Regions from separate parts of the Homo sapiens genome. Here regions 1, 3 and 4 are each linked to region 2. The links come from fine-mapping of genetic effects on gene expression. A gene starts in region 2. Each other region holds a variant in brackets. All regions are shown on one strand. Distances are from middle to middle.

Region 1 (5,812 bases), 88 kb after region 2:
GCGTCCTCCCTGCTTCCCGCAGACAGGCGACGGAGACAGACGGACGGGGAGAGAGAGAGCAAAGCAGGAGCTCGGAACCTGCGAGCCACACCCAGCACACAGCCCTGCCTGAGCTCTGCTGGACACCAGTGGGCCTGGCTCCCACCACTGGACCCCTCTCCCCGACCAGGGTGGGAAGCCTGGGTGGGGCGGGGTGAGGCGAGGCGGCCAGCGTGGAGACAGCAGTGCAGACCCGAGCCAACTCGGAAGAGGATTCAGGGCCACGCAGAAGGTAGGGAGAAGCCAACAGATGGGTGCCTTGGAAGACCCTCCCTAGCCCCACAACTCAGCACCCCCGACTTCTGGCAGCAAAGGGTTGAGCGGAAAGGCCAACGCAGAACGCCAAGGAAGAGCCCACAGGACGGCCGCTAGGCTGCAGGGGGGACGCTCACGAGGGAGGAGAGGCGGCACCAGCCACTGTGGGGGAGCAGTGTAGCCACACCAGGCCAGGGGGGCAGGCCACAGGTGGGGCAGCCTGGGGCAGGCTGAGCTGGGGGCAGGGGGTGCTGGCAGCGCCAGTGGGGAGAGTGGGGAGGGCCACGAGAGGTGGCCTCAGGCAGCTCCTGTGGCTGTGTGTGGGACACAACAGGTGGTGAGATGGAACCCTCTGCCCAGCCTCCGCCCAACGGGCTGTACCTCCTCCTCCTCCATGCGCCGCAGAGTCTCGCTGATGAACTTGATGTACTGGCTCGTCAGTGTGGTCAGCTCGCTGTAGTGCGTACGCAGGTCCACGTACTGTGGAGTAGAGCCAGGGTTAGCCCTGCGAGAGCTGCAGCTCCAGCCAGAGGCCTGCCAGCCCCTCACCCAGTTAGGTTCGGCCCCACCCTACCTCCTGGATGACACTCTCTGATCCCGACTGGACCTTGGGCTTCTTGGCCGGGGAGGCCACCGGCTCAAGCTGCGCCTTGTACGTCACCAGCTGGAGTTCATAGTCCTGTGGCAATGCACTGCGGTCAGCCACCAGCTCTGCCCTCCGATGGCCCCTGCCCAGCCCCTAAACCCTCACATGGGCTTTCCCTGGCATGGCCCAGGCTCAGGGAAAGCCCGCCATCATCCTGGCAACGGTCCCGGACTTGGGGCCTGGTGCAGGCGGCTGGGCCTCACCTTGATGGCGTTGATGTACTGTTTCGCAAACCTCTGGCACTCCTCGACCTTCTCGCCGTGGCGCTCGATCTCCTCCAGCAGGGCCTGGGTGATGGTGTGGTCAGAGCCGTGGCCGCAGGGCACGCCCAGCCGCCCCGTCCCCACCGACCCAAGCCCACCTGCTCCTGCCGCAGCTGCTCCCGCACAGCCTGGCTGTCGGCCAGCGGCATGGCCTGGATCTGCTCCTGCCGCCGCCTGGCGTCCTGCAGCCAGGCGCCCAAGGGGTCTGCACTCTCGCGGTAGTAACGCAGCTGGCGGCCCAGTTGCTCGAGCTCGCGCTGCCGCACGTCGGTCTGGGCCAGCACAGCCTGCCAGCGCTCAAGCAACTGGGCGACCCGCTCCCGCCAGCGCTCCACCTCCACGTCCCGCTCCCCGTGCCGCTGCTGCAGTCGCTCCCCCACCTCCTGTGCCCCCCGCAGCTCATCCCGCAGGGCGTCGAACGTGGGCTGCTGTGCCTCGGCCTGGGCCCGCAGCTTCTGTTGGGGACAGGAGGGACATGTGCGGCTTCAGCTGGGCCCGCTGTACCCCCACCCCGCCATGAAGCCCAAGCCTCGAAACGATACCTTCAGAGAGGCCTTGGTGGCCTCGAGCTCCGGGAGGGTGGCCGGCACGGCCTGGGCCTCCTTGAGCTGCTCCTCGTGGGCCCTGAGCACCTCCTCGGCCCCCTGCGTGCCGCGGATCACCAGGCTGATGGTCTTGAGCCTGGCGGGAAAGCGGGGCTCAGGGCCATGACATGGGGCTCGAGCAATAGCCCAAGGGAATGGAACCCAAGCCACAGCGACCCAGGGTGCTGCCTGCCAAGCCCAGACCCAACCCTGGGGGTCAGCTGACCCTGTGGTCAGAGGCTTGCTTCAGGAGAAGAACAGCCTTGGGGAGAAGGAGGTTGGGAGCCTCTGTAACACAAGGACACTCAGGACCCAGCCTGGAGAGGGGGTGCGCCAGCCAGGAACGGCAGACCCCAAGGCCCCGAGACAGGACGAGCCCACTGGCTGGATGACAGCGGCATCCTGGTGCCCACAGGGCCTGGAAGCGTAGTTCTCAGCCCTTGCAGCCCAAGACTGGGCGAAGGGGACACCGGGGTGGAAATGGCACCCTGTGGTAGCCAGCGGCGGCCCTATCACTGTGCTGGTTCTGTGAGGAGTAGACAGCGGGTGGACCTGTGGTTTGCAACACAGGAAGAGGCGGCGGCCCTATCACTGTGCTGGTTCTGTGAGGAGTAGACAGCGGGTGGACCTGTGGTTTGCAACACAGGAAGAGGTGGCGGCCCTATCACTGTGCTGGTTCTGTGAGGAGTAGACAGCGGGTGGACCTGTGGTTTGCAACACAGGAAGAGGCGGCGGCCCTATCACTGTGCTGGTTCTGTGAGGAGTAGACAGCGGGTGGACCTGTGGTTTGCAACACAGGAAGAGACTATGACATAACACATTGGAAATAAATGCCAGAGGCCCTTAAGTCCAGGCCAGGAACAGGACAGACGAGAGGCAGGGTGCAGGATTCCTTACTGTGCCACTGAAAGTGGATCCACAGCTTCCCCACCTCACTCAGCAGCCGCTGCCCAGCTCCACTGTCTCTTCCCCACACCCGAATCTCATCACCAGGAAGTCCCCCGGCCGCCACTGTCGAAGCGTATCCAGCCCTGAACTCTTCTCACCACCTCTGCGGCCACCACCCCAGCTGGGCCTCCCGCCTCCTGGCCAGATCTCTGAACAGCCCCCAACTCGTTCCCTCCTGCACCCTCCTGCAAGGTCACAGCCCTCACCCCAGCACCCCCCAGCCGACCCCAGCCCCTCGCCTGTGGCCAGGTGCACTCACTTCTCCAGGTAGATGGCAGACAGGCTGCGGACCTGCTCCAGCTTGCCCAGCGTCAGCTCCAGCTCCGAGCGCAGCGTGGGGGCCGCAGGCGATGGCTCTGGTAGGGCCAAGACCTTCTCGGCCTCGGCAGAGAGCCGGGCGACCCCCTTGCCCAGCCCCTCCACCTCTGCCTGTGCCTTCTGCAAAGACAGGGAGTGGGAACGCACTCATCACCGAGCGCAGCACACAGCGCCCCTTGAAGGCCAAAGGAGGGAGGGTGGGAGGAGGGATGGGGAGAGGGATGGGACTGGATGGGGGGGGACGGCCCCTGCCTGCTGCTCGGCGATGCGCTGGGCACACTCCCGTGCCGGCTCTTTGTCCAGCGGCAGCCGCAGGCGGTGCACGGTGCGCGTCTCACAGGCCTCCAGCTGCAGCCGGATGTCTTTGAGCTCGGAGATGCAGCGCTGGCAGCGAGACTCTTCCTGTGCACCTGGGGAACACATGTGGGTCACTCCACCGCCCACCTCGCACCAGCCCAACCGCCCCAGCCCTGCCGTGCCCTACCCTGTTCCAGGCTCTGCAGCAGCTGCTGGTAGTGGTGGCTGCAGGAGCCGTACTCGCGCTCAGCCATCAGCCGGTCCTCGGGTCCGAAGCCGCCCGCGTCCTGGCTGTCCCGCAGGAAGGCCTGGTAGTGCAGCTCCAGGCTGTGCAGGGCTTGGCGCTGCTCCTCTGGCTTCAGGGTGCGGAACTGGGGGAAGCACGTGGGGCTGAGTGCCGGGCGAGGCGGCCGTGCCCTGCACAACGCCTCTCCCCTCCTCCCACCCAGAGAGCCCCCGGCTCGGGGGCAGGCGTACCGTGGCCAGGGACCAGGAGCGGATGAGCTGCACGTCGCGGCGAAGGCTCTGCCAGGCCAGAAGGCTCTTCATGTCCACGTG[C/T]AACTGGTGCCACAGCGTGACCAGGGCCTGGTGCTGGGCCTCCAGCCTGGCAGGTCAGGGCTACAGTCAGCGTCACCAGCGCCCCACCCGCCTTCCAGCCCCCACCTGCTGAGCCCCCGCCACCCACCTGGTGACGGCCTCCTGGGCCTCCTGGTTGGGCGGGGGCACCAGGAAGCACACGGAGGGCACGGCGGCCTCGCTGCCGGAGCTGCTGAGCACCTTCCAGTGGGACGGCTGTGCAGGGCCCACCAGCTGGCACTCGTCACCCTTGTGCACAGTCACCTGGGACGGGCAGAGTCGGTGAGGACATGGCCACACCCTGCCCTGCCTGGCCACGCCCCCCAGTGGACCCCCGGCCTGCGCTCACCTCCACCTGCTTATAGTCGCACACGGCCAGCAGGGGCAGGCGGCCCCGCATGGGGTGGGCTGGGTGGCGGGGCTTCAGCTGCACGACGGCCTTGGCCCGCTTGGCCAGGCCTGAGAGGTGGCCCTTGTACTCGTTCAGCTGTTCCTTCTCGTCCTGTGGGGGAGGGGCAGCATCCAGACGAGGGCCATGGAGACCCACAGGCCTGCCCCAGGCACCCCCAGACCCCGGGACCAGGCCTGTGGGGCCCTCCTGATGCTCCCGGGGTGGCAGCACTTGGAAGCAGGAGGTATAGCTGGGACAGGCCCCGGGGGTTGGCCCCAAGCAGACCCATGCACCCTCGCTCCTTCCCAACCCAGACAGGGCACCCTCCTCTCACCCCAGCTCACCCACCATGTCCTCCCAGCTACGCTCTGGTCCCTACAATGCCCTCGCCCCTTGCCCCTCCCCTGCGGGCTGCAGAAGGTACTGCCTCCTCCCATCCCACCCCTCTGCGGGGGCCAGGCCGCAGGACGGCACACACCTGGGAGCTGCCGGCTCTCCCCCCGGCCCAGCCCTGCCGACCTCAGAGGCCATTTCAGTCTCCAGTCCCTCTTCCCTGTCACTCCCCACTGTGCACCCGCCCTCCTGGGTGATCCCACCCCTGCTCCCAGAGCACAAAGCCCAGTTCCACTCTGCCCGCTCCAGATCTCAGGCCAAACAGCTGGTGCCCCTTCTATAGTACAAGGGCTGGCAGTGCTCCTTCTATAGCACAAGGGCTGGCGGTGCCCCTTCTACAGCACAAGGGCTGGCGGCAGCTGCTGACTTCAGGCTTCCACTCACTCTGTGGCTATGGAGATGGGGGCGGCCCGGCTTGGACCGGCTGCCTCTCGGCTCCCCACATCCTGCCTCATTCCCCCCTTGGCTGACCTCTACACCTCCCATGGTGCCTCCCAACTCCTGCTGGCCCCTCCAGTTGCCCCCTAGTCTCCAGAGTACCCATGCAGCCCAGAACATCCTGCCTCATTCCCGCTTCGGCTGACCTCTACACCTCCCATGGTGCCTCCCAACTCCTGCTGGCCCCTCCAGTTGCCCCCTAGTCTCCAGAGTACCCGTGCAGCCCAGACTCCAGGCCAGCCCCTCCTGACACGCCCCTGCACACCCCCTCCCTCACCTGGGCATCCTGCAGCAGGTCCTCCAGCCGGGTGACGGTGGCGGAGCGATCACAACTGTATTTCCTACGCAGTGCCTCCTGCAGCTTCTGCAACTGCCCCTCGGCCTCCCGCACATCTGAGAAGAACTGGGGCAGCGGGAGGGGGTCACGCCAGGCTACCTGGGACCAGAGCCCCAGCCCACAGTTGTCCCAGGGCAGGCCCAAGACGGGGGCACTGAGGAAGGAGTGGCAAAGCCCCCAGGAGGCCTGGGGAGCACCCCTGTCCAAGGCCCCGGTCAGGCTGCAGGCAGCAGCTGGCAACGTCTGCAGACAGGAGGGCTCCTGATTGGAGCTGCCGAGGGGGTCCAGGGGCTCCTGCAAGGCTGCCGCTGAGCCACAGTGCGGAGG
Region 2 (7,864 bases):
AGGCCCTAAGAGAAGGAGGGGCACCTCTTATCTGGCTGTTAGAAGGTCTGAGGGATGGCACTGAGCAGCAGGAGAGGGGACTCACCTTTCTGGTCTCAGAGTCAAAGGGCTCTGGCGTCGGGGTCTTGGCCTTTTGGACCTCCTCCGGGGGTGGGGCCAGCACACGGGGCAGCCCCAGGGGTCGAGTGGCTGCAAAGTTCATCAGTGGGTAGATTCCATTCCTGGGGACACAACAGGGTGGCTGGGGGTTCAGGCCTGACAGCTGCCTGGCCCCCAACCTTACATCAGTTCTCACCTGACATCCTCCAGGAATTTGTCCAGCTCCATGAAGGAGACTTCCGAGTACCTGGCATGGAAGTGGGAGGCACATGAGGGGCTGGCCGGGGCGAGGGGAGGGGAGGTGCGGGGAGGGGAGGTGTGGGGAGGGGAGGCTTCTGGGTGCTGACTGCTCACCGCCACTGCAGCGGGGGCCTGCGGGGCCGGGGAAGCTCCGCCAAGACCGCGTGCAGGTCCATGGCCTTGGTCTTCTCCTCCACCACATTCTCAGGCATGAGGTCTGCGGCCACAAGAGCATCAAGGCGGTGTGCTCAGGCCGTGGGTCCTGCAGGGCCCCTTCCACGTCCCAACCTCCACCTCCCCAGCCACCCCCCGGGCCGGCCTGCTGCTCACACTGGTGCTGGATGAAGCAGTGGGCTGCCAGGAGCTTCAGCGAGTGCACCTCGAAGAGCACGCGGTGGAAGAGGAGGCTGTGGGCAGAGGGCCGGCGGGCAGGGTCCCGGGCCAGGCAGCAAAGGATGAACTCCTGGGGCACAGGGAGGAGAGGCTGGTGGTGTGCAAGGGCTCTCTGCTCTGGCCCCGCAGTTCGAGGAGAGGTGGCCCCTGAGTTCCCCATGTCCCTCCTCAGGGACACACAGGACATGCAGGGATGCCCATAGGGAGGAGTCCCAGCAGCAGCAGCCAGGCCAGGACCTGGTCCTCTGAGCTTGAGGACAGCTGGGTTCTGGGATTGGAGCACCATGCTCTGCTTCCCTCGACCCCCAAAAAATCGTGGGGAGAAGCCATGATCCTAAAGTCACACCTGCAAGCCTCCTACCCATGGCCTTTTGATCGGCTCAGCTCGGGCCCAACACTGGAGACGACCTTGATGGGTCCCCACTCTGTCCACATCCGTGCCCAGCCCGGCTCCAGCTCGCCACCAGCCCCGACCAGGCACCCCCATCTCCTGAGGCCATGGAGTTAAGTCTAGACTCCGAGCAGAGGGGGCTGTGGATGCAGCTTCCATCCCATACCTCTTTTTGCCTGCTTGGCACCCACCATGTCCCCCCACAAGCTGGAGCCTCATCACCTCCTGGAAGCTTAAAGTCAAGGACTTGGAGTGAAGCAGACCCAGGTGCAGATGTTGGCTCCACCACTCACTCTAAAGCCTTGGGCAAAGGACTCATCTCCTCTGAACCTTGGTTTCTTTATAAAACGGGCATGGTGATGGCAGCCACAGAGGGAGGGTCTCTCTTGCCTTCTTGTCCTTAGAATGTGCTGACCCCTTAGGGCCTTCAGGCCTGGAACCAGTATGTGCTCCCACTGAGGTCCTCTTTGGGAGGGGTGCAGTCAGCTGGTATACCCCTCAACTGCACAAACTGTGATGTTCTCCCAGGTCTGCCTGGAGCACCTTGCTAGCCCTAGCTGAGCACGGTGAGCCAGCTGGGGAGGGGCAGGGCAAGCTGCTTACCCGCATGTTGGGGTCACTCAGCGAGTGCCTGGCGCGAGCAATGGCCTCCTCTGTGACCCGGGTGTCCCCATTGGTCTGGATTTCCAGTACAGCCATCTGGGGCACAGAGCCAGGTCAGGCATGGGGAAGGGACCACACAGGTGAGCCAGGCAGGGCACAGTTAGGAGGAGGGCAGAGCACAAGGTGGAGGGCGGGGGCAGTACCTCCAGCGCACACATCCCAAAGGAGAAGATGTCCACAGCGGTCCCATCGGCCACCTCTGAACAGAAGAGAGCACAGGACACGTAGGAGAGAAGCGCAGGGTAGGCACGGGGCACCCGGACCCAGCACCACTCACCTCCATACTCTGGGGGGAAGAAGTGCAGGTTCCGAAGTTCCTCTCGCTCAGCGCGGATGGGGCTTCGGAGATCATCTGGAAGTGCTGTGGGAGGGCGCAGAGCTGAGCGGGCGGGGACCTCTCCAGGACCCCGTCCCCCCAAAGTCCGCACTTACCATTGGAGAAGATTCGGTGCCACACTGCCAAGGGGCGGGAGAAAGAGTGGAGTTAGCTGCTGGGGCATCAGAACTCCTCTGCCCTTGGCTCCAGGCACCTTCCCCTGCCCCGTTCCCCCACCCAGCCCTGCCCCGCCAGCACCGGAGCCGATCTTGATGAGGCCGTTGTGCTGAATGAAGATGGTGTCGCTGGTCAGGTTCCCGTGGATGATTGGGGGGCTGCAGGCGTGCAGGAAGCTGCAGACGTTGGGGAGGGGAGAGTAGGAGGAGCCGGTCAGGAGGCTCTGGAGAGATGGGGGCTCGGTGGCGCCGCGCCCAGGCCAGCCCAGGCCCTCACCTGAGCGCAGACAGGATCTGCGTGCACCAGCGCTTCCAGGCCTGGCGGCGGACGCACGACTCCGTCGGTCGGGTGGGCGCAGGAGAGGCGGCTGGGCCTGCGGAGCCCGCCCCGCATCCTCGCCCAGCCCCTGTCCGAGGCCGCCGGGCACCCCCTCACCATCCCAGTCCCCGAGGCTGCCCCAACCCCGTCCTGTCCCCGTGGCTGCCCCAGCCCGCTCCCCATACCCGGGCGTTCATGGCCTTGTGGTTCTTCTTGGTCTTTTTGAGGAATTGCTTGAGGCTGCCTGATGACACGTACTCTGTGATGAAGATGACCTGCACGGTGCGAGCTCAGGATTTCCACCAGCTGCGGGTTCGTCCCCATGCCCGCCCCACCTAGCTGTGGTCTCTGCCTGCCCGGGGCCTTGCCCGTGCTCACCCTCGCGCAGGCCTCAGAGGTATCCAGCCAGTACTTGTGCAACTTCACGATGTTCGGGTGGTCCACCAGCACCAGCTGCTCGAACACGGTCTGGATCTTCTCCTGGGGAGGGAGGGTGGTCGCTGGGTGGTCAGCAGGTGGTCACCCAAGCAGGATGAGGAGGGGGCAGCGGTCTCACCTCGTGCGCCGCGAAGGCCTTCCTGTCTCCGAAGTGGAGCTCGTTCCACACCACCTCTACCCCCTCCTCCGTGTCCATGGCTAGGAAGGTGCTCTGAAGCCCTGGCATGTTCCCTTGGTTTACCTGGGGGTGAATAAAGGGTTATGTGTGCCCTGGTGTGTGTCAGGGTTGTGGGTGAGGATTTGGTCCCTGTCCACACCTTTCCAGTGGGCCCAAGCGTGGGCTGCAGGCCCTGAGCCACTCTGCGGGAAGGTGGGGCTTGGAGGGTAGCTGCCCCCAGGAGCCAAGGGCTCCTATCCAAGGGCTGGGCTAAGGGGATTTGGAGCAGGTTTCAGGGGGTCGAGGGGGATCCCCAGGAAGCTAGCGGCTGAGTCCAGAGGCATGGGGAGGTGGTCCTGGGAGGAGACTGGCCCTCAGGGAGTCCCAGGGCGAGCGCCAGGCCAAAGGGGTCCAGGGGTGGCTGATTCGCGGGCCGCGAGGGGCCGCGGAGAGGTTTCCAGCCGCCGCGCTCTCCCAGCGCCCCCACGCCCCGCGCAGCCTCCAGGCCCCTCCCGCTCTGGGAGGGCGGTGTCACCCCGTGCCCCAACCCCCGCGCCCACCTGCTCCCGTCGCTTTTGCCAGCGACCACACGGGCTTTCCTCCAGGATGTCGCTCTCGTCCTCGCTCTCGTCCTCCCGCTCCCGCTCCCGTTCCCGGGCCCGCCTCGGCGCCGGCTCCGGGGCCGCCATGGTTCGGCCAGCCCAGGCCACCGCCCTCTGCGCGATCCGCCGCCGGCGCAGCCTCTCCCGGCCCGCCCTGGCCTCGCGCCCAGCAGCCCAGCCTAGAGCCGCCGCGGCAGCCTAGAGCCCCAGCCCCGGCTCTGGGAATTGGGAGGCGCGGGCGCGCGGCGGACGGGCGGGGCCCGGGGGCGGAGCCGGCGCGCACCTCCCGAGCCGCCTGTGCCTGCCGGAGCCAGAGCAGAGCTTCCCCGAGAGCTGCCGAGCCCGGGCCGCGCCCAGGCCCCGCCCCCCCGGAGGCCCCGCCCCGCGAAGCCCCGCCCCAGTCCCTGTTTCCTCCTCGTCTCCCAGGCCTGCTCCGCGAAGCCCCTCCCCAGGCCCTGTCCCCTCCTCGTCCTCCAAGCCTCCTTCGCGAAGCCCCGCCCCAGGACCCGCCCCACCCCCGCGAATCCCCGCCCCGTTTTAGTCCCCGCCCCCGCCCGTTCCCAGGGTCCTCCGCGAAGCCCCACCCCAGGCCCCGCCTCACCTCCTCGAAGCCCCGCCCCTATGAGGCCCCGCCCCGCGCAGAGGAACCGCCCCCAAATCCCCGCCCCCTCGGAGGCCCCGCCCTGCGGACACCTGGAGCCCGGAGCGCCCACTTCTCTCGCGGTTGCTCCCCTAGGATCTGGGGGAAGACCCGGGGCATCTGGGGGCCCCCAAGCCCACGGCACCCTCCAGCTGCAGAAGACCCCGCGGGCTCGAAAGCGGGACCCGCTCTCCTGGCCACGCACTCATTCCCCGGCCGACCCCCAAGGGACAGGTCGAAGGGGCACCGAGGGCGGGGGAAAGGCCCACCAGCAGGCTGACCCAGGCTGACTTTGATCGGTGACCACGAATCTCTCCCTGGCCCGCCCACCAGTGCCTCCTCCCGCCCACAAGCCCATCTTCTCACTTTCCAGGATGGCGATTTTCTCTTTTCTCCTCAAACGCGCATTTCCTTTCCGCGGCTGGCTCCCATGGGACAGTGGAACCATGAGGGGGGAGCCCACCCGGCTCACACGACCTCTCCCTCCGGAGGCCGCTCTAAGCACACCCTCCAGCCACGCCGACCACCGGGGCTGTCCCCGATTCTCACCTAAAACCCCCTTCAGCCCACAGCCCCCACGGCCTTCCTGTGGTCTCCTCCCTCCTTCACGGCGGGTCCTCATCCTTTACCTTCTCTCTCTGGAGCCCAAATTGGAACTCCGCTCCTCCCCTCCGCGCAGCTCCATGCACTGGCCCTTTGGGACGCCTCTTTCTTTCTTTGGCAGAGGTGCATCTGGCCCTGCTGCGTCCCCTGTGGTCTCTCTTTTCTGACCAGCCTTGGTCACCAGGCACCTTGTGTGTGGTTTCCACCAATGCCAGGTGATCCTGCTGAGGCCCTCTGCAGTAAAGGTTTGGGGTGTTCAAATCCTCCACCCTGAAACTGGCCCTGACCAGCTCCTGGGAGACACCCTCTAAGCCCTTGGAATGTTCTGCCTGATTTGAATGTCTGTGTTTACCTCGGCCACACCAGATTCTATGCTAAGCTTGTCCAACCCGCAGCCCAGAGGGTGCATTCGGCCAAGGACAGCTTTGAATATGGCCCAACACAAATTCATAAACTTTCTTATTGAGATTTTTTTTAAAGCTCATCAGCTGTTGTTAGTGTTAAGTGTATTTTATTTAAGGGTATTGCCCAGGACAATTCTTCCAATGTGTGCCAGGAAAGCCCACAGATTGGACACCCCTGGTCTGTGCTAACAATATGGTCTACGGGGGGACCTTGGGCCATGTGGCATCAGCCTGACCTCTGCAGGGGCTGGAGGCCAAAGTCAGCCACCTGGGAGGTCAGCCATGCCTGTGTGACCAACCCAATAAAAACCCTGGACACTGAGGTACGGAGGGCTTCCCTGGCTGCTGACATGCTGTGCTCATTGTCACACCTCAGTGCTGGGAGGTTGAGCACTGTCCCCATGCCTGCAGTGGGTGGGGACACCTGCAGACCCGTGCTGGTCTGTCCTGGGTTCTGTTCTGTGAGTCCTTGCCACTGCTGATTTTAACGCATCCATTGCTGTAATAAATAGTACCCTTTCCGAGTTCTGTGAGTCCTTCTAGTGAACCATTGAACTTGAGGGTGGTTTTGGGGAGCCCCCCCAGTGGTCCCTTCTCACTTGGTATGAGGGCCTAAACATGAAGGCCCAGTAATTGGTCCCATTACCCTACCTCACGTCAGCTGCCTTCTTCAGCTGAGCCCACCCCAAGTACACGGCCCTGTGCCATCGGACATGACAGGCACTTCCCCTCAGGGTCTCTGCCCTGGTTATACCTTTGCCCGGAACGCCCTTCCCAAACATCCTCTGAGGTCACTTCCTGAGAGGCCTGTCCTGACCACGAATCCTGACATCACAGTCCCCACACCCTTTCGCCTGCTTGACTTGACTTTTCCCGGAGTATTCACCCCACCTGACTTGCATCTGGGTTTTTCTCATCTCTCTTCTTCACTGTCTGTGTCCCTGTTGCGATTCGAGCTCCCGCAGGGCAGGAGTGTCTGCTCGTTGTCCCTGCTCTTTCTCTGGTGCGAGGACGGTACCCGGCACACAGCAGGCCCTCAGCAAACACTTGTTGAATGGATCTGTGGGTGGGCAGGGGTGCGTTTTGGCGGGTGTGGTCCAGAGAAGCCCCTAAGGAGGTAAGCCTTGAGCAGAAGAATCTCAATGAATTTCCTCCCCTTTCTCCGCCCCCATAACCAGACACACATGTTCTGTGGTAGGTCACATAGTGTCCCCCAAAAGTCTACATCCTGATCCCCAGTACCTAGGAGCACAGCCTTATTTGAAAAAAAAAAAATGGTCTTTGCAGATGTAAATAAGTTTAGGATCTTGAGATGCTGGGGTGGGCCCTAAATCCAATGTTTGATGTCCTTATCAGAGAAAGAAAAGGGATACTTGGGGTGCAGAGAAATAAGGTAGACAGTCACATGAACATGGAGGCCAGTGTTGGAGGGATGTACCCACAGGTCAAGGCGTGCCTGGGACTCGAGGACACGAGCTGTTCCAGTATAATAAAATATATAAAATAAGAATAGTTGTACTGATATAGATCTTAGATATGATTATATATGAATATCATTAATCATTAGTTTGTAGCAATTACTCTTTATTCCAATATTATAATAATCCTCACTCTATAATCATAGCCTAGGAAAAACCAGGCCATACAGAGATAGGAGCTAAGGGGACATAGTGAGGAGTAACCAGAAGACAAGAGTGCGAGCCCTCTGTTATGCCCAGACAGGGCCACCAGAGGGCTCCTTGGTCTAGCGGTAACGCCAGCGTCTGGGAAGATGCCTGTTGCCAAGTGGACCTTGGTCTAGCGGTAGGCGCAGTGTCAAGGAAAAACACCTGCTACTTAGCAGACCGGGAAAGGGAGTCTCCCTTGCCCCGGTGGAGTTTAAAGAAGACTCTACTCCTCCACCTCTTGTGGAGGGCCTGACATTAGTCAGGCTCGCCTGCAGTTATCCGGAGGCCTAACCGTCTCCCTGTGATGCTGTGCTTCAGCGGTCACACTCCTAGTCCGCCTTCATGTTCCATCCTGTACACCTGGCTCTGCCTTCTAGATAGCAGTAGCAAATTAGTGAAAGTACTAAAAGTCTCTGATATGCAGAAATAATGGCGTAGGCTGTCTTTCTCTCTGTCTCCTCTCTCTCTCTGCCTCGGCTGCCAGGCAGGGAAGGGCCCCCTGTCCAGTGGACACATGACCCACGTGGCCTTACCTATCATTGGAGATGGCTCACTCTCCTTATCCTGCCCCTTTGTCTTGTATCCAATAAATATCAGTGCAGCCTGGCATTCGGGGCCACTACCGGTCTCCGCGACTTGGTGGTAGTGGTCCCCCGGGCCCAGCTGCCTTTTCTTTTATCTCTGTCTTGTGTCTTTATTTCTACACTCTCTCGTCTCTGCACACGGGGAGAGACCCACCGTCCCTGTGGGGCTGGA
Region 3 (7,864 bases), 80 kb after region 2:
GTACTGGCGCCCGGAGCGGCGGTCGATGATCATGGACTTGACCACGCCGTCCGAGGAGGAGATGGTGATCTCCTCCCACTCGCACTCCTGCTCGGACAGCTCCAGGTACGTCTGGTGGTCAATCAGGCCCTTGCGGTAGGCCTCGTACACTGACATCTCCTTGCCCGTCTCGGGGTCCACGATGACCACTCGGCGCTTGCGCACGGAGGACTTGGAGGACGTCTTCCGCTCCCGCTTCTTCTCCTTCAGCGGCAAGAGACACAGGCCCGTCTGGGGGTCAGTGATACAACGCTCCATCAGCTGCAGGTAGGTGAGGTTCTCCTCCGTGTTAGGGTCAAAGAAGCCCTTGGTGTCGTCCGAGGGGTCGGTCAGGATCTCGTTCATCTCCTCATCGAAGAGGCCGCGCTTGTAGGCCACCTCCACGGGCAGCCGGTGGCTCTCCTCAGGGTCGATGATGCCGCCCGTGGCGATCTGGGCCTCCAGCAGGCGGATGCCATGGTCCTTCAGGATCAGGCCCTTCTTCATGGCCTGGAAGAGGGAGATGAGCTTCCCAGAGTAGGGGTCCTTGTACCCAGTGACGGCGCGCTCGGCCGACAGCAGCTTGTCCTTGAACTCGGGGCCCACAATGCCCATACGCACAGCCTCCTCCACCGTCAGCTTCAGTCCCTTGATGGGGTCGATGACGTAACCGGTGGCCGCCTGCGCCTCCAGGAGCTCAAAGGCTGTGCCGGGGCGGATGATGCCCTTCTTCATGGCCTGGTACACCGAGAGCCGTTCCTTGGTGGCGTCCACGAAGACACCAGCGATGCAGCTGGTGCCTTCCAGGAACTTCTGCAAGTTCTTGGTGACCTCCTCGATGGAGGTCAGGCCCTCCCGCAGCTGCAGCGCCGTGGCCTCGTCCATGACCTGCGAGCGCACCAGCTCCTCCATGGTGATCTGCTTCCGCAGGCCACGGAAGGTCAGCTTGCGGGCGTCCGACAGTGGCAGGAGCAGCTGGCCGGTGCCGTCGTCACGACGGCACCGCCTGAGCAGCTGCGTGTAGCTGAGGCGCTCGTCGGTGGACGGGTCCACGTAGCTGCGCACCTCGCTGGGCTCTGACAGCTGGTCGTGCGTGTCCTTGTTGAGGTAGCCACGCTGGTAAGCCACCTCCAGGGGAAGGTGGAAGCCCAGGCGGGGGTCCACGATGCCGCCGGTGGCCAGCTGGGCATCCAGCAGCCGCAGGGCCTCCTCAGTAGGGATCAGCTCCTTCTTCATGGCCTGGAAGAGCGAGATGGTCTGCTCGGTGTAGGGGTCACGGTAGCCGGTGACCGCCCGCTCAGCCGAGAGCAGGCGGTCGTGCAGCTCGGGCCCCACGAGGCCCTTCCGCACAGCCTCATCCACAGTCAGCCGCTCCCCCTTCACCGGGTCCAGCAGGAAGCCTGTGGCTGCCTGTGCCTCCAGCAGCAGGCGGGCCACCTCGGCACTCAGCAGCCCTTTCTTGAGAGCCTGGTAGATGCTCAGTGTCTGCCTGGAACCGGGCAGGTAGACACCAGCCACGGAGCCCGTGCCATAGAGGTAGCACCAGGCGGACTCCGCCTCGAGAGCCTCACGGAGGCTCCTGGTGCCCTCCCGGAGCAGGTTGTAGGTCTCGAGAGAGATGATCCGAGCCTCGAACAGGTCCTCAGCCGTGAGGCGGCGGCGCACGTAGTCGTAGGAGGCCAGACCCTGCTGGCGGATGATCTCTGTCTTCTCAATGATCTCGATGATGATGATGATCATGCGTTCCTTGGTCACCCGGCCGGCCTGGAAGTCAGCCATCAGCTGGGCCCGCTGCTCCTCGGGGATCAGGTCCGACTGCATCACCTCCCACAGGGACATGGTGGAGCCGCCGTGGCTGCCGCCGCCGGGAATGTCGATCTGTGTCTCTTCAAATGCCCTTCTTGTCTCCTCCTCAGTGTACACCTGCGTGGTCTCCACCACCTCAGCCTTCTCCGCCCCTTTCAGTGGCAGAAGGCGCAAGCCCGTCTCGGGGTCCTCCACGCACCGCTCCAGCAGCTGCCTGTACGTGAGGTTCTCATGCGTGTTGGGGTCAAAGAAGCCCTTGGTGTCGTCGCTGGGGTCCGCCAGGACGCGGTTCATCTCCTCACTGAAGTAGCCGCGCTGGTAGGCCACGTCCACAGGCACGCGGTGGCTGTGCACGGGGTCGATGATGCCGCCCGTGGCGATCTGGGCCTCCAGCAGGCGGATGCCGTGCTGCCGGAGAACCAGGCCCTTCTGCATGGCCTGGAAGAGGGAGATGGTGCTGCCCGAGTAGGGGTCTCTGTAGCCGGTGACGGCCTTCTCGGCAGACAGCAGCTGCTCGTGAAGCTCGGGGCCCACCACGCCCGCCTTCACGGCCTCGTGGACATACAGGCGCTGGTTCCGCACGGGGTCCACCAGGAAGCCAGTGGCCGCCTGCGCCTCCAGCAGGAGCGCAGCCGTTGTGGCTCTCAGCAGGCCCCGGCGCATGGCCTCGTAGATGGACACCTTCTCCTTGGTGTCCTCCAGGTAGATGCCGGCGAGGCAGCCACTGCCCTGCAGCAGCGTCCGCACGGAGCCCAGCTCCGAAAGGTCCTTGACCGTCGTCTTGCCGTCCTTGAGCTGCTCAAACTGGGCTCTGCTGAGGACCCCGGAAGCCAGGAGCTCGCTGGCTGGCACAGGGGCACGGAGGCCGCTGAAGGACAGCCTCTCCTGCCGCAGGGTCTCCACCTCCTCCACGATGGTAATGAGAATCTTGATGACCTTCTCCACGGTGACCTTGCCCGTGCGGAACTGACGCAACAGCTCCTGCCGCTGCTCCGCAGTGAAGTACTCAGAGCTGATGAGCTCCCACACCGTCACCGTCCTGCCCTTGAAGCCACCCACGGGGACCTCAACCGGGGTCTTTTCAAAGGTCTCACGGGCCTGCAGCTCTGAGTAGAGCTCCTCCTGCCGGGCCCGAGCAGCCTTTTCTGAGAGCGGCAGCAGGCTCAGCCCGGTCAGCTGGTCGGGCCGGCACCGCTGCTGGAGCTCGCCGTAGGTGGCCGGCTCCCCTGTGCTGGGGTCACTGTAGGCCTTGGCGTCGGCCCTTGGTGCCGACAGGGCCCTGCTGGTCTCCTCATCCAGGCAGCCTCGGGCGCAGGCGACATCCAGGGGCACGCGGTGGCTCTTGCTGGGGTCCACGATGCCGCCCGTGGACAGCTGGGCGTCCAACAGGCGCAGGCCCTGCTCCCGGGGAATGAGGCCCTTCTTCAGGGCCTGGAACAGGGAGACGCTCTGCCCTGTGTAGGGGTCCCTGTACCCTGTCACAGCCTTCTCGGCTGATAGCAGCTTCTCATGAAACTCGGGGCCCACCAGGCCAGCACGCACTGCCTCGTCCACGGTCAGCCGGGCGCTGGTGGCGGGGTCGATGATGTGCCCGGTGCCGGCCTGGGCTTCCAACAGGGCCACGGCCATGTCGGATGGCAGCAGGTCTTTCTTCAGGGCATTGTAGATACTCAGCTTCTGCCCCGCCTCCTCCAGCCATACACCCGCGATGACGTTGGCACCCCGGAGAGCCCGCCGCACAGTGTCCACCTCGGCTACGTCTCGCACAGAGCGCTCACCTCGCTGCAGCTGCTGGTAGAGCTCGCGGTCGATGACCCTGCTCTCCAGCAGCTCGGCGGCTGGCACCAGGCTGCGCAGGCCCTCAAAGCAAAGCCGGCCCTTCTGCTCCTGCTCCTCCACCACCGTGATGATGATCTTGATGATCTTCTCCACTGTGATCCGGCCCGTGCGGAACTGCCGCAGCAGGTCCCGCCGCTGCTCTGCCGTGAAGTATTCCGAGTTGATGATCTCCCAAATGGTCACCGTCTTGCCCTGGAACTTGCCGAACGGCGCAGACACGGTGGCCTTCTCAAAGACGTCCCGGGCCTCGGAGTCAGTGTAGACCAGCTCCCCGCCCTTGGCAGCCTTATCCGTGAGTGGCAGAAGGCACAGGCCCGTCTCGGGGTCCTCCACGCAGCGCTCCAGTAGCTGCAGGTACGTGAGGTTCTCGTGCGTGTTGGGGTCAAAGAAGCCCTTGGTGTCGTCGCTGGGGTCCGCCAGGACGCGGTTCATCTCCTCGTCGAAGTAGCCGCGCCGGTAGGCCACGTCCACGGGCACGCGGTGGCTGTGCACGGGGTCGATAACGCCGCCCGTGGCGATCTGGGCCTCCAGCAGGCGGATGCCGTGCTCCCGGACGATGAGGCCCTTCTGCATGGCTTGGAAGAGAGAGATCTGCTGGCCAGTGTAGGGGTCCTTGTAGCCAGTGACGGCGCGCTCGGCCGACAGCAGCTTGTGGTGCAGCTCGGGGCCCACCACACCCTCCTTCACAGCCTCGTTGACGGTCAGCCGCCGGTTCCGCACAGGGTCCAGCAGGAAGCCTGAGGCCGCCTGCGCCTCCAGCAGGATGAGGGCCGTGCCGGGACTCAGCAGCTGCCTCTGCAGGGCGGCGTAAACACTCAGCTTCTCATTGGTGGCCTTCAGCAACAGCCCTGCGATACTGCTGCGGCCCTGCAGGTAGTGGCGCACGTCTTCCCGCC[G/A]TGCGAGCTCGTCCACCGTGGTGTGGCCCTGCGCCAACCGCTGCAGCTCCTCCGCACTCAGGATGCCGGCCTCCTGCAGCCTCTGAGCTGACACCTTCCGCCGCAGGCCATCGAAGCTGTGCTCCGGCTCTGCCTCTGCCGCGGGGCCATCAAGTGCATCCCGGCCATTGGGCAGGGTCTTTGTGGCAGCCACCTGCGAGGCAGTGACCTCCTCTGAGTGCGCCAGCGCGGCCCGGTGCTGCTCCTCCAGGAGCTGCAGCTGCTCACGCAGCCTCTGGTTCTCCTCAGCCAGCAGCTCCTCCTGCTGCCGCCGCTGCTGCTCCAGCTGCTGCAGCTCCTCCTGCTTGCGCCGCACGCCCTCCTCGGCCTCATGCTGCCGCCGCCGCGCCTCCTCCATGCTGGCCACCAGCCGCTGCCGTTCCTGCTCCATCTGCTGCTGCTGCCGCTGCTGCTCCTCACGCAGCTGCTGTGCCTTGGCCACCTCGTCCTGGAAGAGCTGCTCCAGCTTGGCCTTCTCCTGCTCGATGAAGCGCTCCCGCTGTAGCAGGCTGTCCTTTTCAGAGAGGAAGCTTTGCTGCAGGGCCTGCGTCTCCTGCAGCAGCTGCTCCTGCTGCACCGTCTGCATCTGCAGAAGAAGAGGGTGTGATCAGGGACCGCCAGCCCAGGAGCACCCATCACCCACCAAAGCAGATCCCCGGGCCCACCCGCCCGTCGCACGTAGAGGGGGCGGTACCTCCTCAGACTTGAGCTGCAGCAGTTTGGCCTCCTGTTGGAGCTTCTCCTTCTCACGCTCCAGCTCAGCGATGGCCTCCCGCAGGCGCTCGGCATCATGGTCACTCTGCTGTCGCTGGATCTCCAGTGTCTGCACCAGGGTCACCTTCTCCTGGGTGGCGAGCTCCGTGCGGTGCAGCTTCTCACCGATCTCCTCCGCCTGCTTCCGGAAGCGCTGGGCGTCCTCCTCAGCGCGGGCCTGGGCTCGGCTCATCTCGGCCACACGCAGCTTGAGGCGCTCAGCCTCAGCGCTCATCTCCAGCTGCCGCTGCCGCTCGGCCTCCAGCGTCCGCTGGAAGCCCTGCGTCTCCTCCGCCAGCTGCTGCGCCATCTGCTCCTTGTCCTCCTGCAGCCGCCGCGCCTGCTCCTGCGCAAGCTCCTTCTGCTGCTGCAGCAGTTCCGCCTCAGCCTTGAGTCGCGTGGCCTCCTGCACCGCCTGCATCTTCTCCTTGAGCATCTTCTCTGCCAAGGCCCGCTGCTGTGCCAGGTCCTCCTCTGCCAGCTGCCGCAGTCGCGCAGCCTCTTGGGCCGCCACACTCAGCCGCGCGGCCTCCTCCGCCACCTGCTTCATCTTCTCAGCCTCCTCCTGCAGGAAGCGCTGCGTATTGTCCTTGTCACGCAAGATGAGTGCGCGGTTCTCAGCCTCGATGCGTGCCTTGAGCTTGCTCAGCTCCTCCATCTGCACGCGCACCGAGAAGAGCTCCTCCTCCACCTGGCTGCGCTGGCGTGCGGCCTCCGTGGCCTCCGCCTTCAGCCGCTGCAGCTCCTCGTCCAGCAGGTTCTTCTGGTGGTCGGTCTCCTCCAGCTGCAGCCGCAGTGTTGTCAGCTCCTGCTCCACCTGCGCCTTCTGCCGCAGCGTCTGCTCGGCGAATTTCTTATGCTTCTCCATCTCCGCGTCAGCTGCCTGCTTCTGCCGCAGGGCCGCCTGCTCCGCCTGTGCCCGCCGCGCCGCCTCTTGCTCGGCCTCCTTGCGCAGCTTCTCTGCAGCCGCCTGTGCCTGAGCCCGGGCCTGTGCCTGCTCCTCTGCCGACTGCTTCAGCCGCTCGGCCTCTTCCACCTGCCGCCGGGACTGCGCCGCCTCACGCTCCGCCTGCACCCGGGCCTCCTCCGCCTCCTCAGCCGCCCGCCGGGCCGCCTCCGCCTCGCCGCGCAGCTGGTCCAGCACGCTCTGCTCCTGCTGCAGCGTCTGCTGTAGCTCCTGCTCCTTCTGCTGCACCGCGAAGGCGTGTGCCTTCTCTTCCGCCTGCAGCCGCTTCTGGGCGGCCTCCTGGGCCAGCTGCAGCTGCCGCGCCGACTCCTGCTCCGCTCGCTCCCGCAGGCGCCGCGCCTCCTCCACCTTGGCTTTCAGCCGCTCGACTTCCTCCAGCGCCGCCTTCCGCTGCCGTGCGGCCTCCTCCTCGGCCGCCAGGCTCTTCTGCACGCGCTCCTCAGCCTCACGGCGCCGCCGCTCCTCCTCCGCCGCCAGCTGCCGCTGCCTCGCAGCCTCCAGCTCGGCCTGCTCCTTGCTGCGCAGCGTGTCCTCCGCGTTGCTGCGGATGCGTCCCAGCTCCAGCTCCAGCTCCGCCTTGCCAGCGGCCGCCTTCTCGAAGCTCGCCTTCAGCGCCAGGATCTCCTCCTCCACCTGCCGCCGCTGCCTCAGCGTGTCCTCCACCAGCCCCTTCTGCCGCTCCAGCTCGCTGTCCGATGCCTTGCGCAGCTGGGCCAGGCGCTCCTCGATGTCAGCCTTGTGTTGCGCGGCCTGCTCCTCCAGCCGCCGCCGCTGGAAGGCCTCGTCCTCCGCCAGCCGCCGCAGGCGCTCGTTCTCCGCCTCCTTCTCCTTGAGCGCGATCTCCGCCTCCGTCTTGAGCCGCGTGGCCTCGCCGATGGCGGCCAGCTTCTCCGCAAGCACCCGCTCCGCCTCGGCCCGCTGCCGCGCCGCGTCTTCCTCGGCCAGCTGCCGCTGCCGCTTGGCCTCTTCCGCCAGGGCACGCAGGCGGGCGGCCTCCTCGGCCAGCTCGCGGAACCGGCCGGCCTCGGCCTCCAGCCTCTGCTTGGACTTCTCGCTGGTGGAGCGCGACTCCTCCTCAGCCCTCGCCTTGCTGGCCAGCAGCACCTCCATCTCGGCCCGCACCTTGGCCAGCTCGGCTTCCAGCTCCTGCCGTTTCTGCGTGGCTGCAGCCGCCTCACGCTGCAGCCGGGCCAGCTCCTCCTCCAGCAGCTGCCGCTGCTGCTCCCCCTGCTCCGTCTCGGCCCGCAGCCGGATCAACTCCTGCTCCGCGGCCAGGCGCTGCTGCGCGGTGCCTTCCGCCAGCTGCCGCTGCTTCTCCAGCTCTTGTTCAGCCAGCTCCCGCTGCCGGACGGCCTGCTCCTCCGCCTTGCCGCGCCGCCGCGCCTCGCGCTCCGCCTCCTCCTTCTGCTTCTCAGCCTCGGCCTGCGCCAGGCTCTTCTGCTGCGCCACCTCCTCCGCCTGCAGCCGCAGCCGTAGCGCCTCGTTGGCCTTGAGCTGCCAGCGCTCCAGCTCCCGCTCTGCCTCCTCGCGCGCCCGCTCGGCCTCG
Region 4 (7,864 bases), 220 kb after region 2:
GACTCAGCGTGGCCCGAGCCCCGGCTCCCACCCGGCCGTGCCCCCAGCCTCCGCGCACGCCGCTCACCGGCTCTCCAGGATCTCAGGGTCGGTGATGCGTGTGTTGGTCATGTGGCTGTGCACACCGCTGCGCCCGTGCCAGCTGGGACCCGCGCCCGCGCCGCCCGCCACCGTCTCGTAGTAGCCCATGTGGGCGTTGCCCAGGGTCACGTTGTTCATGCAGCCCTGGTGAGGGCACCTGGTCGCTGCGCTGGGCTGGGGCAGGGCGTCCCCACCTCGCCCTCCCGCTCCTACTCCAGCCTGCCCACCCAGTCCGCCCCCGAGCTGCGCCCACCCCGCCCCCGCACCTGGGAGGCGGCGCAGGCCCCAAAGGCCCCCAGGATGACATCCACCACGCGCTGCGACGTGAGCACGTTGCCGCCCACCACCGCCGCCTCGGGCGACGGGTCCAGGATGGAGCCTCGGGGAATGACCACGCGCACTGGCGCCAGGCAGCCCTGTGCGGGGCGGGCGGCTCTCAGGAGCTCTTGGGGTGGGCTCCGGGAGAAACAGCACCCCACCCCCCGCCCCAGCACCCGTGGGGTCAGACCGTGGCTGGGCCCAGGAGGCGCACTCAGGGTGACCTCGGGCTGGGGCCCCCCCTCGCGCACACACCCCTGCGAACCTGGTTGAGTGGGATGTCGCGGCCCACCAGACAGCGCAGGCAGTAGATGAGGGCGGACAGGGTTACGGCCCGCGGTGCGTTGAGATTACCAAACACCTCCGGCCCAGTGCCGCTGAAGTCAAACACGGCGCTGCCCTGCGCGCCCCGAGGGAAGGGAGAGGCTGTCAGCGGCCGCACCGTGCCCCTGCCGCCTAGAGGCACTCTCCCCACGGCCCACCTGACTCAGGCTGATCTGCACACGGAGGCGGATGGGGGAACCGTCGTCCATGTGGTCTTCCGAGGACACCTCCAGGGGCAGGCCCCGGGCCTGCCGGGAGGTTCCAAAGGCACGCAACATGTCTCGCACGGCCAGCTCAGCGTTTGCCTGGCAGGGAGCAGGATCAGTGGTGGCCAGGTCACCTGCAGGATGGCCCTGCCGCCCACACTCCTGTGCCCAGGCCCACCTGAATATGGCCCATGTAGGCCTGCACCACGTCCAGGCCGTACTGCCCAATGAGCTCCCCCACCAGCTGGATGCCCTTCTGGTTGGCTGCCACCTGGGCACGGAGGTCCGACAGGTTGTCGTGCAGGTTTCTGGTTCCGCTGCAGTTGGGGACCTTGCCTGGCGCCCGCAGGGCCTCCGTCACCGCTGGATGGACAGTGTCATCACTGAGCCCCTGGCCAACCCTGTCTGCACCCCCAACCCAGGTTTCCCAGATCCAGACAAGGTCTCTGGCCCCTAGAAAGCACCGAGGCCTGGCCTGGGACTGCTCAGCACCTCAGGAAAGCCCCTCTCCTTGAGCCTGGCTCAGGGTCCCCTCTGAGGCAGCCACAAGGCCCTCTGCAGTGTGCCTGTGCATGTCCCTCTGTGGTCCACAACCCCTGCCCCAGCTCACATTGACCAAGGGAGCAGCCAGCAATGGGCCACCCTATCTGTGTCCTCAACACCCAGAACAGCCTGTGGTTCCATTACACCCACCCTCTGCCACCACCCTCCACCCTGGCCACGCCACTTCCCCTGGGCTCCCAGACCTGCAGCCTCAGACCAGGGCTGTTTTTCCCTGTCTCTCCTACCCCCACCCCCACCACAGGCACCCCTGCAGCCTCCATCCCCCCTTCCCTGCAGCTGCTCAGTGCCAGGCCCTCCACCTCCAGCTGCCCAAACTTGACCCCTGGCCCCCTCTCCCAAATCCCTCCAAATACCCACCTCCACCTCTAAAACTGTCCCCCACCCCCCGCCCTCGCTCTCCACTCAGCCCAAGACATCAGCATCATCCAGGGCAACTGCAGCTTCCCCCCACCTTGCCCCCCAGCCTCCAGGCCACTCTCAAGACCCCGAATCCTCTCTGCACGTGGGCACAGTGGGAGCTCAGCGCAGGCCCAGCTGAAAGCCCTTCACGGCCACCCACCACCCAGTGACTCAGACCTAGGCCCAGAAAACTCTACAGGGGCCTTTGGGCCCTGCCCCTGCCCTGCTGTTTCTCTGCGGACCCCACCCAGTATGACTGCACACACCACAAGCAGCCACCCACCTTGAAACAGGCTTCTCTCTCCAGCACCCTGACCCTCCACGTCTTGGCTAACTCTCCACCCGCAAAACCACCCCTCGGGAGGCCTTCCTGGGCCCAGGCTGAATTCATCTCAGCTCCCGGGATCCGATCTGCAGCTGCCCTTTGGGGTAACCACCTATCTCCTCCCAGCCTCAAGGCAGGCCTGGGCCTATGGGCTGCATCCCACGGTCCAGCCAGGCCTGCTTGCCAGCAGTGGCCATGTGTCCCAGCCTACAGAAGGCCTGCCCCACCCCACTCCCACTCACCCTCCTCCTGGAAGACGCCCCCCTGGACAAGTTTGAAGGACAGAAAGACGGCACCCTCCTGTTGCAGCATGGTGGAGTGGGGGGGCATGGAGCCTGGTGTGATGCCCCCGATGTCTGCGTGGTGCCCTCGGCTGGCCACATAGAACACAGGCCGCGTCTGACCCGGCCAAAACACCTAGCGGGTGGAGAGCCACGGTCAGCTGCATCGGCCACCACTGCCCCAGCAGAGGCAGGCGGGCAGCACCCCTCACCGGTGTGATAACAGTCAGGTCTGGCAGGTGGCTGCCCCCGGCACTGGGATGGTTGCTCAGTAGCACGTCGCCAGGGTGGAGATCGGCCCCCAGGTGCTGAATCTGAAACCAGGAGATGGGTGCAGAGTGGGCACAGGGGAGCAGGGGCCAGAGCGGGGTGGGGGGGGGGTGGAGGGTGAGGGAGGGGGATGGAAGGGTGAGGCGGGGGAAGGGCCACCTGGAACTGCACCGTCTCCTGCATGGCACCCAGGTGCACAGGGATGTGGGGGGCATTGGACACCAGCCCCCCATCGGGCCCAAAGAGGGCACAGGAGAAGTCCAGACGCTCCTTGATGTTGGTGGAGATGGCTGTGCGCTGCAGGATGCGGCCCATCTGCTCTAGGAGCACAAAGTGACCAGGCCCGCTGGCCCCACCCACCCACAGCCTGGCCCCAGGAAAGGGAGGAACAGGACCCACCAGGACTCAAACCCAGGACCCAGGAAAAACCCAGCAGCTTTTTCCTGGGGAAGACCAAGTTGACGGTGTGCCCACTTGGCCACGTCTTAGCCTATGTAAAGGACACCACCTTCCCCAGCCCTGCCTGGAGCCCCCAGCAAGAACCCAGTGCCACCCCTCGACCCTCCCACCCTGCCTGGCACAGCAAGAACCTGGTTCCTAGGCTCTTGACCTCTGGGCTCCCAGCAAGCCGCTGGCCTGACCCTGCACAGATGGGTTCCCTGTGCTGTCCTCAGTATCCCTTCCTTAGCTAGGAGGGCACTCTCTGGATCACATGGCTGCAGGTAAGGGGGGAAGGTGTCCTCCCTGCCCAAGGTTTGTTCTCATGGCCAACTGCACCACACCAGTGCTGCGGCCACACTGCCCGCCCCGTC[G/A]CCAGGGGGTCCTGCTTCTGCCTCTCCCTTTGGGCACAGCCCTGCCAGCTACCCCATGACACAGCCGGCGCCTCATCCCACAGGGAGCCTGGCAGCGGCCACTCACCAGCAATGCTCATGAAGCGGTGTGAGAAGATGGACAGCTGGATAGGGTCCAGCTGGGGGCCCACTGTGCCGGGGACTTCGGCCCCCACGGAGATGCAGATGTCCCCTGTCTTGGTCACCTCTGCCTGGCAACCTGGCTCCACCAGGATGGTGCTGGGGAGCAGAGGGCACAGAGGGCTGCATGGGGCCAGGCGACACCCCTCCAACCAGAGATGCCACGGCCCCAGGCCAGGGGCCACCCCAACGATGGTGGGATACAGAGTCCTGCAGGCCCCTGCAGCCTTGGGCCAGAGAACCCTGCACCAGGGGCCCCGCAGTGGACCCGTCCACATCCTCCACCCTGGCCGGACTTCAGCCCACCTGTTACTGTCGATGATGAGGCAGGGCCCATGGAGCTTGTGCCCATAGCCCAGCTCTGCCAGCAGGTACACAGGGGTCTCCTGGTAGCCCCCCTCAAAGTAGCACTGGGTCATCTGCAGAGGGTGCGGGTGAGTACAGCGCCCGGGCCCAGCACCCTCCCCGATGCCTCTCACAGGGCTTGGTCCCCATCCCGGTGCCCCATGGGTGCTGTCAGGCTGGCACAGGCAGGACCACCAACCTTGTCCACCCGGGGAGGCCCGGTCTGGGCTTTGGGGGCATCCTCGAGGCGAAGACCACTGCGGCCGGTGCCCCGCACTCGCACATCGTCCACGACCACCGGCCGCTCAGGTATGACAAAGCCAAACTCCCTCATGTACCTGCACTCCCCGCGGGGACCCAAGGAGTGGTCAGAGTGAGGCGGCCAGACAGGAGGGCCCCTTGCCAGGGATCCGGAGTCAGGAAGCCACGTACCGCTCCACAAAGGCTGCCCCGAAGTCCCCCGCACGGGGCGAGCGGGCTGTGGCTGGGTGCTGGTGGGCAGACACCATCAGAGCACAGTCCGTGCCCTGGTAGCGCAGGTGCAGGAAGCTCTCAGTGCTGATCTGGGACCTGCAGCAGGTGGTTGGGGGCACTCACACCAAACCCCCTGCCCTGACCCCACCCCACCCAGCGCCCGGCAAGGACACCTGTTCTGCTTCTCGCACACCCCGGGACCACCTGGGAAGTCATCAGGAGGAACACCCACCAAGGGCGTGGTGAGGACAACGTAAGCCCTCTGTCCAGGGCACCCTGGGAGCCCACCTGGGGAAGCCCTGGGCCTGCAGAGCATCCACACACTGCTCCTCCAGGCGGCTCAGCCTCTGGTCCAGCTGCACGAAGGTCTCAGGCGCGTAGAGCAGGGAGCAGGGTTCCTGTGCCTCATGCACCACGTCAGCCAGGGCCAGCCCCAGGGCCGACAGCAGCCCACTGTGCCTGCAGGGATGGGCAGCATGGCAATGGGAGGTCACCTCCCAAGCCCGGCGCAGATCACACCACCTCCGTGCACCCACACCCAGGCCCACCTGTGGATGTGCACCGTGTCCATGCCCAGGGCCCGGGCGATGGCACATGCATGCTGCCCACCAGCTCCCCCAAAGCAGGCCAGCACATGGGCTGAGGGGTCATGGCCTCTTGCCTAGGGAGACAGAAGGGGTCAGTGGGCTCTCCTACTCTACCCCATCCAGCCCCCAGCCTGAGCAGGAGGCCTGGGGCAGGGAGCAGGGCTGGGGGCAGGACAGGCGGGAGAGCAGAGGTGGACGTACCTGCGTGAGTGCACGGATGGGCCGGCACATGGCCTCGTTGGCCACGCGCACGAACCCCATGGCCACCTCCTCCAGGCTCAGCGGGGAGGCCGGGCAGGGCCCGTTGGTCAGGAAGCTGTTGACCTCAGTGGCCACAGCCTCCAGGGCTTTGCGGGAGGCCTCAGGGGAAAGTGGTTGGTTCTCTCCCGGCCCAAAAATGCAGGGGAAGGAGGCAGGCAGCAGGCGACCCAGGACCAGATTAGCATCCGTCACTGTCACAGGGCCCCCTGGGAGGTGGACAGGGTGTGGGGCTTGGGGGCTGGAGGCAGGGGAGCAGGAGTAGGCAGCAGGGATAGGGCTGACAGGAGGGGCTGGGCCTGCGGCGGCAAGCGGAGGGCAAGGCCAGGCCGGCCAGATCCTGACTCTTACCTTTGCGGTAGCAGGCGGGTCCTGGGTGGGCTCCTGCTGACTCGGGCCCAACCACAAAGAGGCCAGACCTAGGGGAAGGAAGGGCTGGGGTTGGAGTTGGACACGAGGAGGGAGACAGGGCTGGGGTCCCAGCCTGGGAAGCAGGAGAGCTGACCTGAAGAAGAGGCGGGAACCCCCTCCCGCTGCCACGGTGTTGATGTCCAGCTGCGGGGCCTGGAGGGTGACGCCAGCTGTGCTGGCCTCGAAGACGTGCTCGAATTCCCCAGCATAGCGGCTCACATCCGTGGACGTGCCTGGCAGGGGTGGGGTGCTGGTGGGTCACTTGAAGACCCAGGGGCCCAGCAGCTGAGCCTCCCCGAGACCCCAGCCCTCGGCCCTCATACCTCCCATGTCAAAGCCGATGACAGGCTGGCCACCCTCCTGCTGGTAGGTGGTGGCTGAGTAGCCCACCACGCCGCCGGCCGGGCCCGAGAGCACAGCACTGGAGCCGCTGAAGGTGTCCATGGGCGCCAGGCCGCCATCGGAGCGCATGAACAACACCTGCACATCCTGCGAGCGGGCAGCAGGCGGGCCATGAGGGGCAGGCCAAGGCCCAGGCCCAGGCCCAGGAGTGGGCAGTGGGGGTGCCTCACAGCCTCACCTTGAGTTGGCCCTGGAAGCCACGGCAGAAGCCCTGCACGTAGCGCTGGATGGCGGGCGTGAGGTAGGCGTCGGCACAGGCCGTGTGCCCCCGAGGGACGATGCGCACCATGGGCATGGCCTCCGAGGACAGTGACACGTGCGTGAAGCCCAGCTCCCGGGCCAGCACACCCACCTGCTGCTCATGCTGGGCCCACCTATGACAAAAACCCAGTGGCACCTCGTCTCCCACCAGGCCCGGCACCTGCTCCCGCAGCCCACAGCCCCACCTCACTCACGTGTACGAGTGCATGAGCACCACAGCCAGGCTGCGGATGCCTCGAGATAGCAGCCCCTCCAGCTTCCCACGCAGGGCCCCCAGGTCCACAGGCTGCTGCACTTCCAGCAGGTCCCCCGTGCGGCCTTCCAGAAAAGCCCAGGAGGCCCCGTTAAAGGCCAGCAGGACCCTCCGGCCCCAAATCCCACAGCAGCGGCGGCACACACACCTTTCACAGGCGTCCCGGTGCCCGCCTCTCCACGGTGCAGCACCACGCGTTCGTCCACCTCCAGCACCTCTTCATACAGCACCTCAGGCATGGGCACGGCCTGGGGGCGGGCAGAGACTCAGAAGAGGCCCAGGCCTGAGGGTCCAGGCCGGGGTCCTGTGTGAGTGGGTGGTACAGGTGAGTGGCTGTGTCCCAACAGGCCGGTCGGCAGGCCCAGGAGAGTCATACCTGGCAGCCCCAGCAAGGCTCACCAAGGGGGCAGCTCTCCACCCCCTAGGCAGCTGAGTGCAGCCAACTGCTCCACCCCCACGAAGGCAGCTTCTTCCGGAAACGCAGCAGTAGGTGCGGGGTTCCACCCCTCCTCTGCCTGAACAGGGTAGCTTGGGTGGCCCCACACCAGCATCCAGGGTGGGCATGGCGGCAGGCAGGAACAGGGCATCCTGTGCCCACTCCGAGGGCTAGGAGAACTTGGGGTCCCACTGGGAATTCGGGAGCTTCCTCTTTGTCGGCTGGTGCCCATGAGCCATCACTAATCCAACAACTGCTCTCCCCACAGGGTCAAGGCATCCCTGGGGGGTGTACACCACACAGCCTGGTCCCCAGCCAACATGGAGCTCACCAGGTCAAAGAGGTCCCCACGGGCTTGGGTGCCAATGTGCAGCAGGTCTCGGAAGCCACGTGTCACCAGCAGCGCCACCCGCTCCCCCTTCCGCTCCAGCAGTGCGTTGGTGGCCACTGTGGTGCCCATGCGGATGCTGGCGATATGACTGGAGTCCAGCGGCTGGTCCCGGGGCAGGAGCATGCCGGCCTCCTGGGGACCACGTGGTCAGTGTGGGGCTTCTGGCCGTGGGGTCCCTGTCCACCCGCTCCGCCCTGGCCCACCTGCTCCAGGATGCGGCGGATGCCTTCGGTTGGCGCGTCCGCATAGTTGGCAGGGTCCTCTGAGAGCAGTTTTAAGACCCGCACGTGCCCCCCTGGGCACTGGG

Alleles and levels. Positions count from the first base shown, and alleles are read on the strand shown. Sizes are in standard deviations (SD) of each study's normalised expression. Not every link is listed here.
With allele A in place of G in region 4, the expression in monocytes after LPS of the gene that starts at base 4,020 in region 2 is lower (large effect, 1.7 SD a copy in Quach 2016).

The links.
Region 1: its variant is fine-mapped to the expression of NRBP2 in whole blood (TOPMed, PIP 0.95).
Region 3: its variant is fine-mapped to the expression of NRBP2 in whole blood (TOPMed, PIP above 0.99). The same link has a PIP of 0.9 or more in neutrophils.
Region 4: its variant is fine-mapped to the expression of NRBP2 in monocytes after LPS (Quach 2016, PIP 0.95).

What each region holds. Positions count from the first base shown.
Region 1 is chr8:143,926,109-143,931,920 of GRCh38, forward strand. It overlaps PLEC (plectin), which reads right to left. Exons shown (of 32, transcript NM_201384.3): 19 at 5,426-5,551; 20 at 4,276-4,428; 21 at 4,036-4,190; 22 at 3,828-3,954; 23 at 3,538-3,721; 24 at 3,306-3,463; 25 at 2,995-3,173; 26 at 1,746-1,884; 27 at 1,302-1,658; 28 at 1,144-1,227; 29 at 869-973; 30 at 676-774. Among named protein-coding and RNA genes, the nearest start is that of PLEC, 11 kb to the right of the region's middle. RefSeq lists enhancers at 1-71, 2,112-2,241, 2,632-2,881 and a silencer at 2,368-2,497. The variant C/T (reference allele first, on the strand shown) is at 3,909.
Region 2 is chr8:143,836,954-143,844,817 of GRCh38, forward strand. NRBP2 (nuclear receptor binding protein 2) reads right to left here and starts at 4,020. Exons shown (of 18, transcript NM_178564.4): 1 at 3,753-4,020; 2 at 3,154-3,276; 3 at 2,976-3,077; 4 at 2,783-2,872; 5 at 2,556-2,596; 6 at 2,361-2,455; 7 at 2,219-2,242; 8 at 2,064-2,147; 9 at 1,930-1,985; 10 at 1,727-1,822; 11 at 670-802; 12 at 454-556; 13 at 296-346; 14 at 86-221. The coding sequence starts at 3,881. It overlaps MIR6845 (microRNA 6845), which reads right to left and starts at 863; the gene lies at 803-863. RefSeq lists enhancers at 1-595, 3,907-4,637, 4,638-5,367 and a silencer at 3,922-4,481.
Region 3 is chr8:143,917,212-143,925,075 of GRCh38, forward strand. PLEC (plectin) reads right to left here. Exons shown (of 32, transcript NM_201384.3): 31 at 5,293-7,864; 32 at 1-5,184. Among named protein-coding and RNA genes, the nearest start is that of PLEC, 18 kb to the right of the region's middle. The variant G/A (reference allele first, on the strand shown) is at 4,560.
Region 4 is chr8:144,052,102-144,059,965 of GRCh38, forward strand. It overlaps OPLAH (5-oxoprolinase, ATP-hydrolysing), which reads right to left. Exons shown (of 27, transcript NM_017570.5): 2 at 7,761-7,864; 3 at 7,498-7,689; 4 at 6,879-6,978; 5 at 6,672-6,795; 6 at 6,395-6,590; 7 at 6,138-6,303; 8 at 5,909-6,047; 9 at 5,755-5,822; 10 at 5,347-5,612; 11 at 5,107-5,219; 12 at 4,847-5,017; 13 at 4,517-4,654; 14 at 4,284-4,422; 15 at 4,046-4,158; 9 more. It overlaps MIR6846 (microRNA 6846), which reads right to left and starts at 5,279; the gene lies at 5,220-5,279. RefSeq lists an enhancer at 1-654. The variant G/A (reference allele first, on the strand shown) is at 3,581.